2 linked regions of the Homo sapiens genome follow. The protein of the gene in region 1 interacts with the protein of each later gene in a pairwise test. Each region holds a gene or a part of one and is shown on either strand. Other genes may lie near its edges.

What was found. The genes of interacting proteins can lie anywhere in the genome.
Region 2: the proteins of RBBP9 (region 1) and RCBTB2 interact in binary tests that used the Homo sapiens proteins (3 or more experiments, as listed by UniProt).

The regions. Positions count from the first base shown.
Region 1 is NC_000020.11:18,494,223-18,502,017, forward strand, and holds the start of RBBP9 (serine hydrolase RBBP9), read right to left. Parts: upstream 3,004-7,795; 5' UTR 2,946-3,003; coding exon 2,847-2,945; intron 1,659-2,846; coding exon 1,616-1,658; intron 1-1,615.
Region 2 is NC_000013.11:48,529,665-48,537,655, forward strand, and holds the start of RCBTB2 (RCC1 and BTB domain-containing protein 2), read right to left. Parts: upstream 3,417-7,991; 5' UTR 3,364-3,416; intron 2,386-3,363; exon of another isoform or gene 1-2,385.

The DNA.
Region 1 (7,795 bases):
TATGTATTACTACTTGAAAGATCCAAGTCCACAGTTTTGGTAACTAGTTTTTCTTTTCTCTTTTTTTTTTTTTTTTTTGGTTTACCATGTTCTTGTAAGAAAATACTAAGGAAATAATAAAATATAACTCTGAAATTTTAATGTAAACTTTCAAACTTGAAAAAAAAAGCTAATGGTCAGGTGCAGTGGTTCACACCTATAATCCCAACACTTTGGGAGGCTGAGGTGGACAGATCATTTGAGGTCAGGAGTTCGAGACCAGCCTGCCCAAATGCTGAAACCCCGTCTCTGCTAAAAATACAAAAAAAATTAGCCAGGCGTGATGGCGCATGCCTGTAATCCCAGCTACTTGGGAGGCTGACACAGGAGAATCACTTGAACCCAGGAGGCAGAGGTTGCAGTGAGCCAACATCACGCCACAGCACTCTGGCCTGGGCAACAGAGCGAGACTCCATCTCAAAAAAAAAAGCAAAAAAACTCTTGCAACATTCTAAAATTCACATTTATTCATTCTTTCCAAAAAGGGGATTCCTGAGACAAGTCATAGGCATACCCAGAACAAAAGTAGCAATATGACATTTTTAAACATTAGGACCTCAAATAGATGCTGTAAAGTTTTATACCTATGCCTCAAGTATAGTACCCACAAATTCTGCCTGAAAATATTTGTAGACATATAGAAGGGAAAAATCAAGTTGGTGCAAAGTTGAAAATTAAATTTTACCATGCCCAGGTGCTTTCCTAATCCTTACTAGAATTTTCTATGGCTTACCCCATCCGGGAGGTGAGGGGCGCCTCTGCCCGGCCGCCCCTACTGGGAAGTGAGGAGCCCCTCTGTCCGGCCACCACCCCGTCTGGGAGGTGTACCCAACAGCTCATTGAGAACGGGCCATGATGACAATGGCAGTTTTGTGGAATAGAAAGGGGGGAAAGGTGGGGAAAAGATTGAGAAATCGGATGGTTGCCGTGTCTGTGTAGAAAGAGGTAGACATGGGAGACTTTTCATTTTGTTCTGTACTAAGAAAAATTCTTCTGCCTTGGGATCCTGTTGATCTGTGACCTTACCCCCAACCCTGTGCTCTCTGAAACATGTGCTGTGTCCACTCAGGGTTAAATGGATTAAGGGCGGTGCAAGATGTGCTTTGTTAAACAGATGCTTGAAGGCAGCATGCTCGTTAAGAGTCATCACCACTCCCTAATCTCAAGTACCCAGGGACGCAAACACTGCGGAAGGCCGCAGGGTCCTCTGCCTAGGAAAACCAGAGACCGTTGTTCACTTGTTTATCTGCTGACCTTCCCTCCACTATTGTCCTGTGACCCTGCCAAATCCCCCTCTGCGAGAAACACCCAAGAATGATCAATAAATAAATAAATAAATAAATAAATAAATAAATAAATAAAAATGACAAATTCACAGAATTGAAAAAAAAAAAAAAAAAAGAATTTTCTATGGCTTTTGGTTCACACCCTCCTCCCCAAGCTGCTTGCCTTATTCTTTCTTAGGTATATAGGCATCTTTGGTTCCTCCACTATGATATTCTTGTTCTCTACCACAAAAATGGTAATATCAAAACCCAACAAGATGAGGCTATTTAAAAACAAGTTTAAAACTTACTTGGGTCGGGCATGTTTTTAGCCAAACACTGGAAACCAGGTATCTATGATATGAGGGGGGAGAAAAAGCTATAATAAAGAGCTTAATTACAACTAATACTTTGCTAATAAGAAATGAGGCACCTGATATGATCGTTACCAATTCAGTATTAACTTGTGTTATGAAATGAAGTAGGTTAAGTGACCATCTTTTCGCATGAACTCCATCTGTAGTTCTGTATCTAGGCAGCTCTGCTGATCTCTATAGAGAGACCTATATCTGCATTTGTACACCCATATTTGCCTCTACAGGCCTGCATCTATAGAGAGGCATGAACAAATGTGTTCTAGACAGACTGACCTGGAGCCAAATAGACTGTGTTCCAGGGAGTAGGTAAAACGTGGCACAGGAACGTGATACAGAAATTTGGAGACAGCATACTCTCAGAAGCTCCAGCCCTGACCTTTGGGGTTGTAACTCTGACCAGGGTTTTCAGCCACAGCGCTGCAATCTATTCTGGAGACCCGCTCTAGAGGACAGCAACCCAGGGAGCCGACTTACCGCCTGGTTACAGAAGAGGGTTAAAAAATAAAAATCAAACGGCACAGGTCAGCCTACAGTAAGATGCCACTTTTATAAAGCTCACCAAGAAGCCAAATAGAACAGTCTGTTGTTTAAAAGGTATATTCATAGGTTGAAAAGTACTTCAATTTTAAAAAGAGAAGCAGATGAAAAAATTCAGGATGGCACGGGACTGAGATGGGTAGACATAAGGGTCGTTTGGAAGATGATGTATAGGCAATGTCCCAGGTTTTAGTTTGGTAATTCATTACATTATGCCTCATAATGTAGACGCATGTTACGTATATCCTTTGTATATATTAAGTATAGCATATTTAATTTTTTAAAAGCTGAAGCGGGAAGCAGTGAACATGTAAAATTATCTGGGAAGTCCCAAATCTGAACCAGCAGCAGATACGGGGGGCGGGGCTCAGGGGCTCAGCCTCGGTAGTTCAAAGGGGTTCCTTTAACTCTAAAGGCTGAGCCCTCAGAGAAGTCTTCCAGGCAGTTTTACCAGTCAAAATTCGACCACTAGCTCAGACTTTAAGAGAAGGCAGCGGGGGAGAGGCAGGAAAACACACAGGGCTTTGCTAGAGGGGATTAGACGCCTATTCAAACTTCAGCCCTCAGTCCTCTCCCGCCGTCCCTCCCTCCAGGCTGACTTCACGGAGCAGCGGCGTTGGGCGCTTACCTTCTCCAGCTCCTTTTTCACCCAGCCATACCAGCCGTGGGTGGTCACATCCCCGCCTCCGTTCCCGGGAACAATCACTGCCTTGCTAGGAGAAGCCATGAGTGCAGCGAGGCCAGAGTTCCCCAGCGCGGGTCCAGCGGAGCTGAGCCCAGCCTGCTCCCGCAGGGAGCCTGCGCCGCGGCATCCTGGGAGTTGTAGTTGCGGGGACCTGGGAGGCCGGGCTCTTTCCTCCTTGGCCTGCCTTCCGCTGGCTGCGTGGGGCAGCCAAGAACAAAGCCTGCGAGCTTCCATCAATTGTAAAGCAAAGCACCCTTTACTTGCCTCTTACTAGTGCTCTCATGTTTTTCCCTTATTTAAGACAGGCTATGACACGGTTGGGGTGTGTTATTTCTTTGCTAGATTTACTGATATTTCTATAGGAAAGTTTGTTTTTGGTTTCAAACATGCAGAAAACCCATTTATAACCTGGGAACGCCTGAAATCCATATTATTTTTCCTTCTGAGTTTAAAACAGTTTTTAGTAGTCAGTATCAGCCCTGGTTGTTGTTTTTCATTGCTTTGAATGAAATTTCCTTGCATAAAGCTACTAACCCAAGTAAAACAAGCAAAAATTTAATTAAATACCAAGAAAATACTTCGTCAGATTTTCATATTAAACCAGCTGATACTGAAATTGTTTAAAATAGTTTATAACCAATGCTTAGTCCCATATTCCTGGGAAGACAAACAAAGCTTCATGTACATTTGGTCACCGGGTGGGCCATTTAAACATTTTGTAAGGGGATTTCATTCAATTGTTATTTGAATTCCAATTTGTCATTCTGGTTGTATAAAAGCTTTCCCATGCAAGAGGGCTGATGTTATAACAGTAGATTATTATGCTACAGTGTATTTTCCCCCGGTAAAGAAAGCTTTTTATGGTTTGAATTTTCTGGAAACATTGGAGAAGACTGTCCTTGTCATCCACACTACAACAAAACTTCAGGACCTTGGGCTTTGGGTTCATGGTCTCGCAAATGAGAACGGTCCCTCCACACTTTTGGAACAGTGCACCCATTGGAACTTTTGAGGTAAAGCTACCCTGGGAAATTTCTCCCAAGAAGAAAATGGCATCCTTGATGTGAACAGCTTTTCCCAAGTTCACAGATTAAGACTTCTACTACCATGAAACTCTTATCTTTCAATATTTTTTGTCTTCCTTATGCCTCTACAAACAATAGAAGTGGAAAAGGGGTCTGTTATGTGCACTTATGGGGTATACTTTTATTTGTGAAGGAGTTTGCAGCCAGCCTTATACATGGATAAACTTAGACTTTGATAGATAAAAGATGAAGGCCCGAAGTAGGTAAGAAACTTTAATGGTACATGCATTGCTTCATAATCAGTCAAAAACAAAACATTGGTTCACTCCTCTAACCCACATCATGGGTTAAAGAAAACATTGCCAGTAGGCCTTCACTCTTCTAGAAAGGCATCATTTGTTAGGTCCTTTTACCATGGTTTGAAGTAAAAGAAGCAATGATTAGAAATGTATCCCTCATTGGCTGGGCGCGGTGGCTTACACCTGTAATCCCAGCACTTTAGGAGTCCGAGGCAGGCAGATCACCTGAGGTCAGGAGTTCAAGATCAGCCTGGCCAACATGGCAAAACCCCATCTCTACTAAAAATACAAAAATTAGCTAGGCGTGGTGGCAGGTGCCTGTAATCGCAGCTACTCAGGAAGCTGAGGCAAGAGAATTGCTTGAACCCGGAAGGCAGAGGTTGCAGTGAACCAAGACTGTGCCACTGCACTCCAACCTGGGCGACAGAGCAAGACTCCGTCTAAAAAAAAAAAAAAAGGAAAAAAGAAAAAAATAAATTCAGTGGTAGAGGATTAACGAAGAAATTGCTTAGTCAAGTGAGTAAACCCTTTATCTAGCTCATTCTTTGATCTATTTGATTTTAGGAGGTTTGGTTTATCGGGGCCTTGGGTTTAGGAGCATACCCCGAACTCTTGGTGTTATCCTCCCAATATTTATAATAATAGTCTCCCTGGTGTGCTGTATTCTCTCAAAGGTTTTAAATGTTTGCACGCGGTCATCTCTAGAACGTCAGATGTTCTCTCTTCAACTGGAATGACAAAAGCTGAAAGAAATGTGCAACCATGAGAACACCAAAACCTATAAATGATGTGCTGAGACCGAAACCCAAAATGATGGTAACTGAGAGTGGCGCTAAGGCCCTAAGTTTTGGTCACACTCTCACCTAAGTGAGAACCTGACCAAAAAGGGGGAATTTTTTGCACAAAATTTTGCGAGGCCATTGTTTTGGACTAAGCTCATGCATTAGGCCCCAACAAACCAAACCAAACCAAAATGGAGTTGCTTGTGCTAAGACTTCAAGGAAACATAGATTCTAGAACAGACTAGGTTTTGTTTTTTTTTCTGCAAATCTCTATAACAAACATCTCTGACAGCGTAGGTATCCACCCCATGAAGTTCCCATTAAATCTTTTTTTTTTTTTTTTTTGAGACGGAGTCTCGCTGTCGCCCAGGCTGGAGTGCAGTGGCGCAATCTCGGCTCACTGCAGGCTCCGCCCCCTGGGGTTCACGCCATTCTCCTGCCTCAGCCTCCGGAGTAGCTGGGACTACAGGCGCCCGCCACCTCGCCCGGCTAATTTTTTGTATTTTTAGTAGAGACAGGGTTTCACCGTGTTAGCCAGGATGGTCTCGATCTCCTGACCTCGTGATCCGCCCGCCTCGGCCTCCCAAAGTGCTGGGATTACAGGCGTGAGCCACCGCGCCCGGCCATCCCATTAAATCTTTTAACCAAATTAATTTCCTCTCGTCTGGAGACCATCAAGCTTCAGATGATCATGCAACAAAGGTTCCAGCCAGTTCCAGGTGAAGACACCACCCCTAGCCATCAAGAAACTACCCTGCCTCCACTAGATAGAGCAGGGCGAGTTCCATGATCACCAGTAGGTAGGGACTACACCCCAAGCCAGCATGAAGCAGTTACAGAAAAAAGACCATCAGTCCCTCTGCCTCCCATAAAGATTTATGGGGATCACATCTCTCAGCGGGCAGATGAGCCAGGAAAATAGGGTCTGGAGGCAGGGAACAGAAGGCCGATTCACACTTCGGTAATGACAGGAAATATCCTCTTCACAGGGTGTAGGCCAACTAAATGACTTTGTAGCTTTACTTCATCCTCTTCATTTACATAGGGTGTACCCCAAGTAGAGGGTATTTAAATGCTCAAAAATTCTATAATGGGGATTTTGAGGCCTTATGCTCAGGCCTGCTCCCATAATGTAGAGTGTACTTTCATTTTCAATGAAACCCTTCTTTCCTTCCTTTCTTTGTGCGTTTCGTCTAATTGTTTGTTCAAGACGCTAAGAAACTGGACACCCTCCACCATTAACAAAGGGACATGAAACTTTTGGGGGTGATATATATGTTTATTATCTCGATTGTGGTGATGGGTGTCAAAACTTAATAAATTGTACATTTTAAATATGTGCAGCTTAAGGTACATCAATTATACCTCAATATAACTCTTTCAAATTTAAAAATAGTAATCCCAGCATTTTGGGAGGCTAAAGCGGGAGGATTGCTTGAGCCCAGGAGTTTGAGACTAGCCTGGGCAACATGGCAAGACTCCATGTCTTCAAAAATTTTTTAAATTAGCCAGGCACGGTGGTGTACACCTGTAGTCCCAGCTACTCAGCAGGCTAAGGTAGAATGATCACTTGAGCATGGGAGACTGCAGTGAGCTATGATCATGCCACTGCACTCTAGCGTGGGTGACACAGTGAGACTCTGTCTCAAAAAAAAAAAAAGGAATAAAATGTCAACATAAAACAAGCAGAGACATTCCTATAACCAACTGGTTGTTTGCTTAGTAGTTTTTAGTTCAAGAAGCAGTGATACTCCCTAAACAGGAACTGGGGGCTGAAAAAGGATCTAGCAATCTAGCTTCCCTTAAGATTTAGTTAGCTCATTCTTCTAGAAGGAGAAAAAAGGCAGTGACATTAACTCTCATCTTAGGTTGTTTATGCCAATAATAATTGAGAAGATTATAATTACATATATCCGTTTTGTTTTCTACTTTTTATCTCTTGTACAAACAATTTCTGAGCTTATCATTATCACAGAAGAAACAGTTTTAGTTTCAAAGCTAAAAGCCAACATTTTTGTCCATTTTATTTTTTGAGATGAAGTCTCGCTCAGTCACCCAGGCTGGAGTGCAGTGGCGCGATCTCGGCTCACCGCAAGCTCTGCCTCCCGGGTTCACGCCATTCTCCTGCCTCAGCCTCCCGAGTAGCTGGGACTACAGGCGCCCACCACCATGCCCAGCTAAATTTTTTTTTGTATTTTTTTTTTTAGTAGAGACAGAGTTTCACCATGTTAGCCTGGATGGTCTCGATCTCCTGACCTCGTGATCCACCCGTCTCAGCCTCCCAAAGTGCTGGGATTACAGGCATGAGCCACTGCTCCCGGCCATTTTTGTGAATTTTTAAAAATCTGAAAATGCACCTTTATATTTGGTACCTCATTTGCTAATATTGAAGAAGTTGTTCTCAAGAACTTGCTGAGACAGTTTGACTCTTTCTAAAGGGATCACCCACCCTCCACTGAGGCCCTCCTTCTAAAGGGATCACCCACCCTCCACTGAGGCCCTCCTTCTAAAGGGATCACCCACCCTCCACTGAGGCCCTCCTTCTAAAGGGATCTTCCACCCTCCACTGAGGCCCTCCTTCTAAAGGGATCTTCCACCCTCCACTGAGGCCCTCCTTCTAAAGGGATCACCCTCCCTCCACTGAGGCCCTCCTGCTGAATAATCTTCCTCTGCCTGGATTTTTCTTTTCAGGTCAGGATGTTTTCTGTGGGAAGTTTGTCTCTAAGTCTTCAAACTCACGGTCTAAATCTATTCTCCTCTCTTCTGTGGTTACTTTTCCTTTCTGC
Region 2 (7,991 bases), on another chromosome or scaffold:
CATGTTCCTTCCAGACAATGAAAGCTGGAAGTATCATCTCAGCCTTCCATTGATGGACATTATCAATATCCCTTACCAGGAGGCAAGCCATCCACTCCTTTGAAGTAAAATCTCCAAGTAGAACTCTCTTTTAGTCTTTAACAAGAGTCCTTAATGTCACTCTGTAACCCCAATAATTCCTGGTCTCCAATCTACCTTTTCCTGGACAATTTTAATCTGTAGCAATATTTATTTATTTATTTATGAGATGGGGTCTTACACTATTGCCCAGACTGGAGTGCAATGGTGTGATCATGACTCACTGCAGCCTCAACCTTCCCGGCTCCAGTGATCCTCACACTACAGCCTCCCAAGTATCTGAAACTACAGGTGTGTGCCACCATGCCTGGCTCATTTTTTTTTTGTTCGTTTTTCTGTAGAGACAGAGTTTTGCCATGTTGTCCCGGCTGGTCTCTAACTCCTGGGCTCAAGAACATTTGACTGCCTTGGTCTCCCCCAAAGCGCTGGGATTACAGGTGAGCCACCGCGCCCGGCCTGATTTGTAGTAATTTAAATCCAAGTAAACCTCAACAGTAGCAGTATCTTGGGGCATTTAAATTTTACTTTAACCAACTGATAAAACCAAACTTGAATATGACAATTTCATAGGGCATAAGCAAATTCCATGGACTCCTTACATTTATGGTCCTAGATTAATAATATTTTGGTGTTTGAACAGAGTATTTGTAATCTATGTAAGTAAAGGACATGAGGGGAAACACACTTTACTTTCTAAAATTATTCCTCTCCATCACCCTCTTTCTCTAAGCCTTCTTTAATTATGGATTGAAATTTAGTTAGGTCTATCTGGTTCATTCAGATACCTGTAAGAGAGGTCATTTATAGCATAACATCACACCAGGTGATTTAAGCTCCTCTCCTACACAGTTTCAAATACAGAAAAGCAATGACCATTCTTAGAAAAGATCTTCACTAGTCATCCACAGTCAGAGGGACATTTAGAAGCAATTGCAAAAACTGTGGAGACAACGTACAGTTTTTCTCAGCACAATTTACATAGATGTCTGGCTAGCTCTTCCTTGTAAAAGTCCAGTGTCTTCATTTGATGTGCTAAGTTAAACTGTAAACTCCTGAATAATTTGAACTCTTATTTAGGAAAAAAATGTTTTTTCACCTATATACTATAAAAAATGGTGACGTTTATCACAAGGGTCATGCCGTGGGCTCCCATAAAAGACATTGTAGAGCACGATAAAGAACGTTTTCTCCCAGAAGAACATTTATTTCTAAAACCCAGTTCCCCATGTTAAACATCACCTTTGGTTTATCCTTCAGACTCACCGTACCCATGATGTTTAAAATTGCAACCCACACCTGCACTCCCAATTCCCTTTCTCTGTTCTCCTTTTTCATTTTTTCATAGCATTTGTACTTTTCTAACCTAATATACAAATATGTTTTTTATCATTCTTTGCTAGAATGTAAGCTCCAGAGGGAAGGGATCTTTGTCTCTTTTGTTCATTGATGCATCCCAAGCATCAAGGACAGGACGTGATAGAAAATCAATTTTTGTTGAATAAATGAATGAATCTAGGTTGAGTTCAGTAAAAAAATATCTCTGGAGTAAGTTAGTTTCCAATTTTATTTCTACAATTAACAAATACCTTCTGAGCTTCAATTATGGTGGAGATAGATTGATCATACCCTTACAAATATATAATATCAGATGGTGATTAAGTGCTACAAAGCCGAACCAGCAGTACAAGAGTTTGGAGAGCCAGACATTTTAGGTGAGGTAGTCACCTCTCTGAAATGATGGCAATTGTTTCAAGACTTAAATAAAGTTCTGTGCCATGCAGATTTGCGAAGAGTGGGAAAGTGAGCATTGAGCATACTGGAAATACCAAACGCAGACGCCCTGGGATGAGGGTCCGCTTGGCGAGCCCAGCAAGAGCAATAAGGCCTGAGTGGTGGAAGTGGGGTATGCAAGAACGTATCATTCTTGTTGCTTTTACCTGCTGCTTAATAACACGCATGTACTGTCTAGCAGGAAATAAAGAGATTACGTTTCACCTAGAATACTCATTCTCTGAGCCTAAGTGGCTCTTCTATTCCAGCCCCCAAATATCTGTATCAGCACATCATATAAGATTACAAAGCACAGAGTAATGACATTGTTAGAAACTCTTCACAGTAGCCCCAGGAGTCACGAAACTGACTTAACTAAGACCCACTGTCTAGTAAGGTGTAAAACCCAGCAGGAACGCAATACTAGGAAGGTGCAAAGCCAGGAGGCTCAATAAACGTTAAACAGTGTCTGGGGGAAAGAGCAACGATCCAGAGCACTGTTTGTGAACTCAACCACTTTTATTCAGCTCTGACAAGGTAAGTCGCCAAGCGCGGTACAAAGTAGCTCCATGAAATGCGTTTTGTTATAGTCCTGGTCTCGAACTGTTGCAACATTTTATGTAATTTTTGCAAAGAACAAAAGCAAAAAGTTCATTCTAAATTAGCCTTCCAACTCAGTTCTTTCTCCGCCAAGACGGAGCACTTGGAAAGTTTTCAATGTCTGAAAACCTCTATTTCCAGGGCTGAGCAGAGCACTATGTTGCGGCTTAAGACGCTCGGCGATTTCTTCCCATCCCTCCGCAGTTCCAAAACGGCTTCGCCTAACAAAGTCAAACTTTTCGCGCTATTCCTGGACATCAGGACCAAATGTCGAAAGCATATACTGCCACTGAGTTAGTGAGCCGGGCCGGTGCCCGGGACCTGGGGTACTAGATTTATGGGACGGGAGCCTAGGGGTCGAGGCCACAGAAATGAAAACATCGGCAACATATGCAGTGCAGCGAGTGGGTTAGGAGGGAGAAACTTCAGGCAGGACGCTCCCTCGGGACCTGTGACGCCCCCCCAGCCACACCAGACGTGGGAGCTTAGGATGAGAGCGGCCTCCGAGCAGATGATCACCCTGGAACGACGCCAAACGCGACCCCTACCAGAGGACTCGCGCATGCGCAGCGCAGCCTGGGCCGGCGGCCTGGGCAGGATGTAGTCGCGAGCAGCGCACCGGGCCCACGCCAGCGGAATTGCGCATGCGCAGGGCCGCCTCTGCCTGCGGCCTGGGCTGGGTGTAGCCCCGGAACCTAGCTCTTAACTCCCGCCAGCAGTTTTACGCATGCGCGACGACGCCTAGGCCTGTGGCACGGTCGCGGCTCTAGTCCCCTGGGCCCCTCAGCTGTCTCTGGCGGGGAGGTCGGGCCGCAGGGGCGGGGAGGGGTGGCCTGCCCCAGTGGTACCTGACAGCATCCCACGTCACGGCCGCGATCCCCCTCGGCCTCCCACACCACTCCTCCACCCTCTTACCTCCTCGCAGGCCGGAGCCTTGTCCGCTCCGCCTCCTGGGTAGCGGTTACTGCACGGTCAGGGGCCCGGCGCCGCGATGAGTTGGCGCCTCCCCCTGAAACGGCCCGGCCTCGGCGGGATGCGCTCGGGTGCCCGGCCGAGACGGAAACGAAGGGAGCGCAGACAAGAGGAGGGGGCTGGCGACGGCGTCTCGCCCCTCCTCTCCTCCCTAGGCTGCCCACCGCCGCCCCTCCCCTTTCTCGCAGACGCCCCCTCCCCTCGGAGTTGACCCCCGGGAGTCTCCCATTGGGGCCGCCTCCGCTTTTCCAGGGAGTTCCTCCGTGGGTCACCCCCACCTTCTCCAGGGTTATGTTCTCGCAAATTTTGGGAATTTGTGGATACCCGACCTAGAAGGATAAGGCGTGTATGATGCTGAGAGCAACCTTTTCCACAGCCCCTCTCCTCCAGCCTGCCCCAGCTTTTCTTCTATTGCTGGCCCCTCTATCTGGGGGCTCCGATCACTTCACGTTTTCACCCCATTGCTGTGGGGCGGAAGTCTTGTAGCCCCCTGTAGTACAAATGCTGAAATAATGAGGATGTGTGCTGGGGGGTTCAGGGGGATGACCTCAGTTACCTTGGGGCCAAGGGCTTCGAAAACAGCCACCTTCTCCCCTTATGATTATATTTTGCAGTAATTTATTATATTACACTGCACTTCTGTTGGCCTTTGTAGATTTAAGTAAAATGCACCACAACTTTGCAGTGTGCAATAATTTCTTCCACTGCACTACACTTAAATTGACCTGAGTGGGTTTTGGTTAAATGCTCAACAATTAAATGTTATTAGCTATTCCTGTGAAGTAAGCTACTTGCTTTTATACTGGCTGTTTCATGAGGACACTGGTTCCTCTACAGTGTAGAGCCAAAAGTAGTAAAGCCAAAGAGAAAAACTAACATTCCAAACCACAGTGACCGTGTCAGTCTGTTTCGTCTGGCTTTTGTCATTTCTTCGGAAAAACATCATTCTAAAATGTATAACTGCCTTTCTGCTACATAGGGCAGACATTTATCTCTATTCTCTGAGCATAGCCCACTGAGCCTCAGAAGGAGGCACGCAAAATGGTACACAGGTATTTCTTGTAGAGCTCTAAATGGAAGAAAAAGTAAGTATACATTAACAGGAAGTTGCAGCGATAGTGCAGAGAGGCATCGTGTGCCTGCCCCAAGTTTCTCCACTGGTTACATCTTATCAATGAAAGAAATTTATGAGTTAAACAGGTTTGCTCTCAGAAAAAGCTCACTTCAGTGATGATAGCTGGCATTTTTTTTTTAAGCACCTATTGTGTGCCAAGAGGTTTATCTTATTTGGAGCTCACAATAATCCTGTAAGGCAAGGATTATCCTTACTTTACAGATAAGGCAACTCAGGCCCCAAGAGATTAAGTTTCTTTCATCAGCAACCATGGCAAGATCTGTTTGCCTTGCGCACTTGGTCTTTTACGCATTATGGACAGCTGAAGTTCATGCAGGCCTTACGGTGTGCTTCAGCTGAAGCCTGACAATTAGCTAACAATAAAAACATGTCTTAGTGTTTTGAAAACTGTGATATTATCTCAGAAGTTAAAACTTTAAAATATACCTATAAAAGAATGTGTTTCACTAAAGATTTTAATTTTATATGGGTCCAACAGTTTTTCCCAGGGCGGTCAAAATTAAAAGTAAGAAGTAAAAATGTCTCCATCACATATAAGTTTCCTTCAACACTTTTGGATAATTTGGTCTACTAAACTTCACTGTATTGCTGAATTCAGTAGACTAAAAATTTAGACTCTGAGAGAGTATAGGTTAGTATTTCAGGAGTTAAAGTTCCCATCACCACATCTCCCAAGTTTACCTACATCTGTACCTGTGCACTCTATTCCTTCCCATTACTGGGAATGAGCTGTGCATGCTCTTATTTAAGTTCAACTCTTCCACCTTTGTATTAGATCCTGTCTTCCTTACAGTCTCAAGGTTTTCACTCAGGTAGTTGTCACCTCTCAATCCTACATTATTAATTTTTGTATCATTAATTTTTGGATCATTCCCATAAGCATATTAACATTGCGCAACATTTGCCTATCTTTTAAAAAGTTCCTTGATTATATGTCCCCTATCAGCTACCAATGTGTTCTCTGGTCTCTTCCAAAATGTCTTAAAAGAGTCACTTATACTAACTGTATCCTCATCCCCTCCTCCTATTCATCCTCTTTTTTTTTTTTTTTTTTGAGATAGAATCTTGCTCTGTTGCCCAGGTTGGAGTGCAGTGGCGCAATCTCAGCTCACTGCAACCTCCACCTCCCGGGTTCAGGTGATTCTCATGCCTAAGCCTCCCAAGTAGTTGGAACGGCAGGTGTGTGCCACCATGCCCAGCTAATTTTTGAATTTTTAATAGAGATGGGGTTTCGCCATGTTGGCCAGAATGGTCTAGAGCTCCTGACCTCAGGTGATCTATCCACCTCAGCCTCCTAAAGTGCCGAGATTATAGATGTGAGCTATCATGCTTGGCCCTCCTATTCATTCTTGAATCTATTTCAGCCAGGCTTTTGCCCCTACCCCTCCATTGAAACTCCTCTTGGCAAAGTCACCAATGACCTCAGAATTGCTAAATCAGTGGTTACTTTTCCATTATCTCACCTGAACTATCAGCAGCATTAGAAGCATTTGCTTACAGCTGCCATCTTGAAGCATTCATCTTCTTCTGTTGGCCTTCAGGTGGCCCCTGTCTCTTGGTTCGTCCATCTCACTGGCAGCTCCATTGGCTCATCCACCACTTCTCCAGCCATTGGCATACCCAGAGTTTGGTTCTTGGACTTCTCTATCTTCTCGTTCCCTTAGTAATTTTATTTCAAGACATGGTTTTAGTCCTGCCACTTCTTATGTCCTAACAAGTTCATGACACTACTCTTGTGAAACTAGGAGCCCTTGTCCTTTTCCAGCCCACAATGGGGATCTAGCTGCAATAAAAGTCTTCCCTTTCTTCCCTTTTTAAACCCCCTAATTACTTCTGCTTTTGGGGTATCTTTAAGCCTCCTTTAGTTATCCAAAAGCAGAGGAATTCATCTTGCTTTTTTCTTTTCAGGTATCCAGGCACCAAGGCCCTAATCACAAGAAAAGGTGGATGGGGCCGTCTTTTGACTTTTTCTTGGAAATTCAGAAAGTCTAATTACGCTTCAGGGAAGAGGAAAATGTTCTTTTTTTCCTCTTTGCGTCTCCAGAACAAAAATTTAGCACCAGTAAATTTCTACATCAGTCTGCTTGTTACAGATTGAATGCATGAATGAATGACTGCAAGCAGCCTGCACTTTGGTGCCCTAAGTGCCATTGATTAGGTGAATGACCTTGGGTAGCACCTTAGTTTTCTAGAACTTAAATTCCTTCAGACTCCATTAAATTGGTGCACTGCCCAGCTCTGTGTTTTGTAGAGGTATCAGTCACACTGCACCTTTACTGATGCATGCTATTACCATGCTGTATAGAATTGTGCATGTCAGCATGGTATTATAATTGGTGTTAGAATATAAAAGTGATAAAGATGATAATAGGCACATATACACTTACTGTGGCAATAGTGAAAGAATGACAAAATACCAAGAGGTGATCAGAGAAGGCTTTCCAAAACAGATTACTTTAGCATTAAGTTTTCAGTGTGGGCTGGGTGCCATGGCTCATGCCTGTAATTCCAGCACTTTGGGAGGCGGAGATGGGCGGATCACTTGAGGTCAGGAGTTCTTGATCAGCGTGGCCAACATGGTGAAACCCCGTCTCTGCTAAAAATACAAAAATTAGCCAGGCATGGTGGTGGGTGCCTGTAATCCCAGCCACTTGGGAGGCTGAGTCAGTGTGAGTTAGCTAAGAGAACAAAGGTTAGGGATGGAAGTGTTAGGGAAGGGAAGTAGTCTAAGTAGAATAAGAAATATGATGTGTTTGAGAATTATAAATTGCTCAGTAAGGCTGAAACAAAGGCTATATGGAGGGAATAGGGCAATGGTAGGAAATTAAAGTAACCATTCATTCATGAATGGACACTAAGGATGATTCTTTATCTCAACAATTGTGAATAGTGCTGCAGTGAACATGGGAGCACAGATATCTCTTCAACATACTGATTCATTTTTGTTGGACATATACTCAGTAGTGAGATTGCTAAAAATAGTCCTATTTTTAATTTTTTGAGGACCTCTGTACTGGTTTTCGTAATGCCTGTACTAATTTACATTCCCATCAACAAAGGTTCCTTTTTCTCCACATCATTGCCAACACTTGTTATTTTTCATCTTTTTTATAATAGCCATCTTTACAGGTGTGGGGTGATATCTCATCGTGGTTTTAACTTGCATTTCCCTGATGATTAATGATGTTGAACTTTTTTTCATCTACTTGGCCATTTGTAGCTCTTCTTTGATAAATGTTTATTCAGGTCCTCTGCCCATTTTTAAATTGGGTTGTTTTATTGCTACTGAATTGTTTGAATTCCTTATATATTTTGGATATTAACGCCCTAACAGATGCATGGTTTGCATATATTTTCTCCAACTTGCTAGCTTTTCTCTTCACTCTGTTGATTGTTTTCTTTGCTGTACAGAAGATTTACAGTTTGATGTAATTCT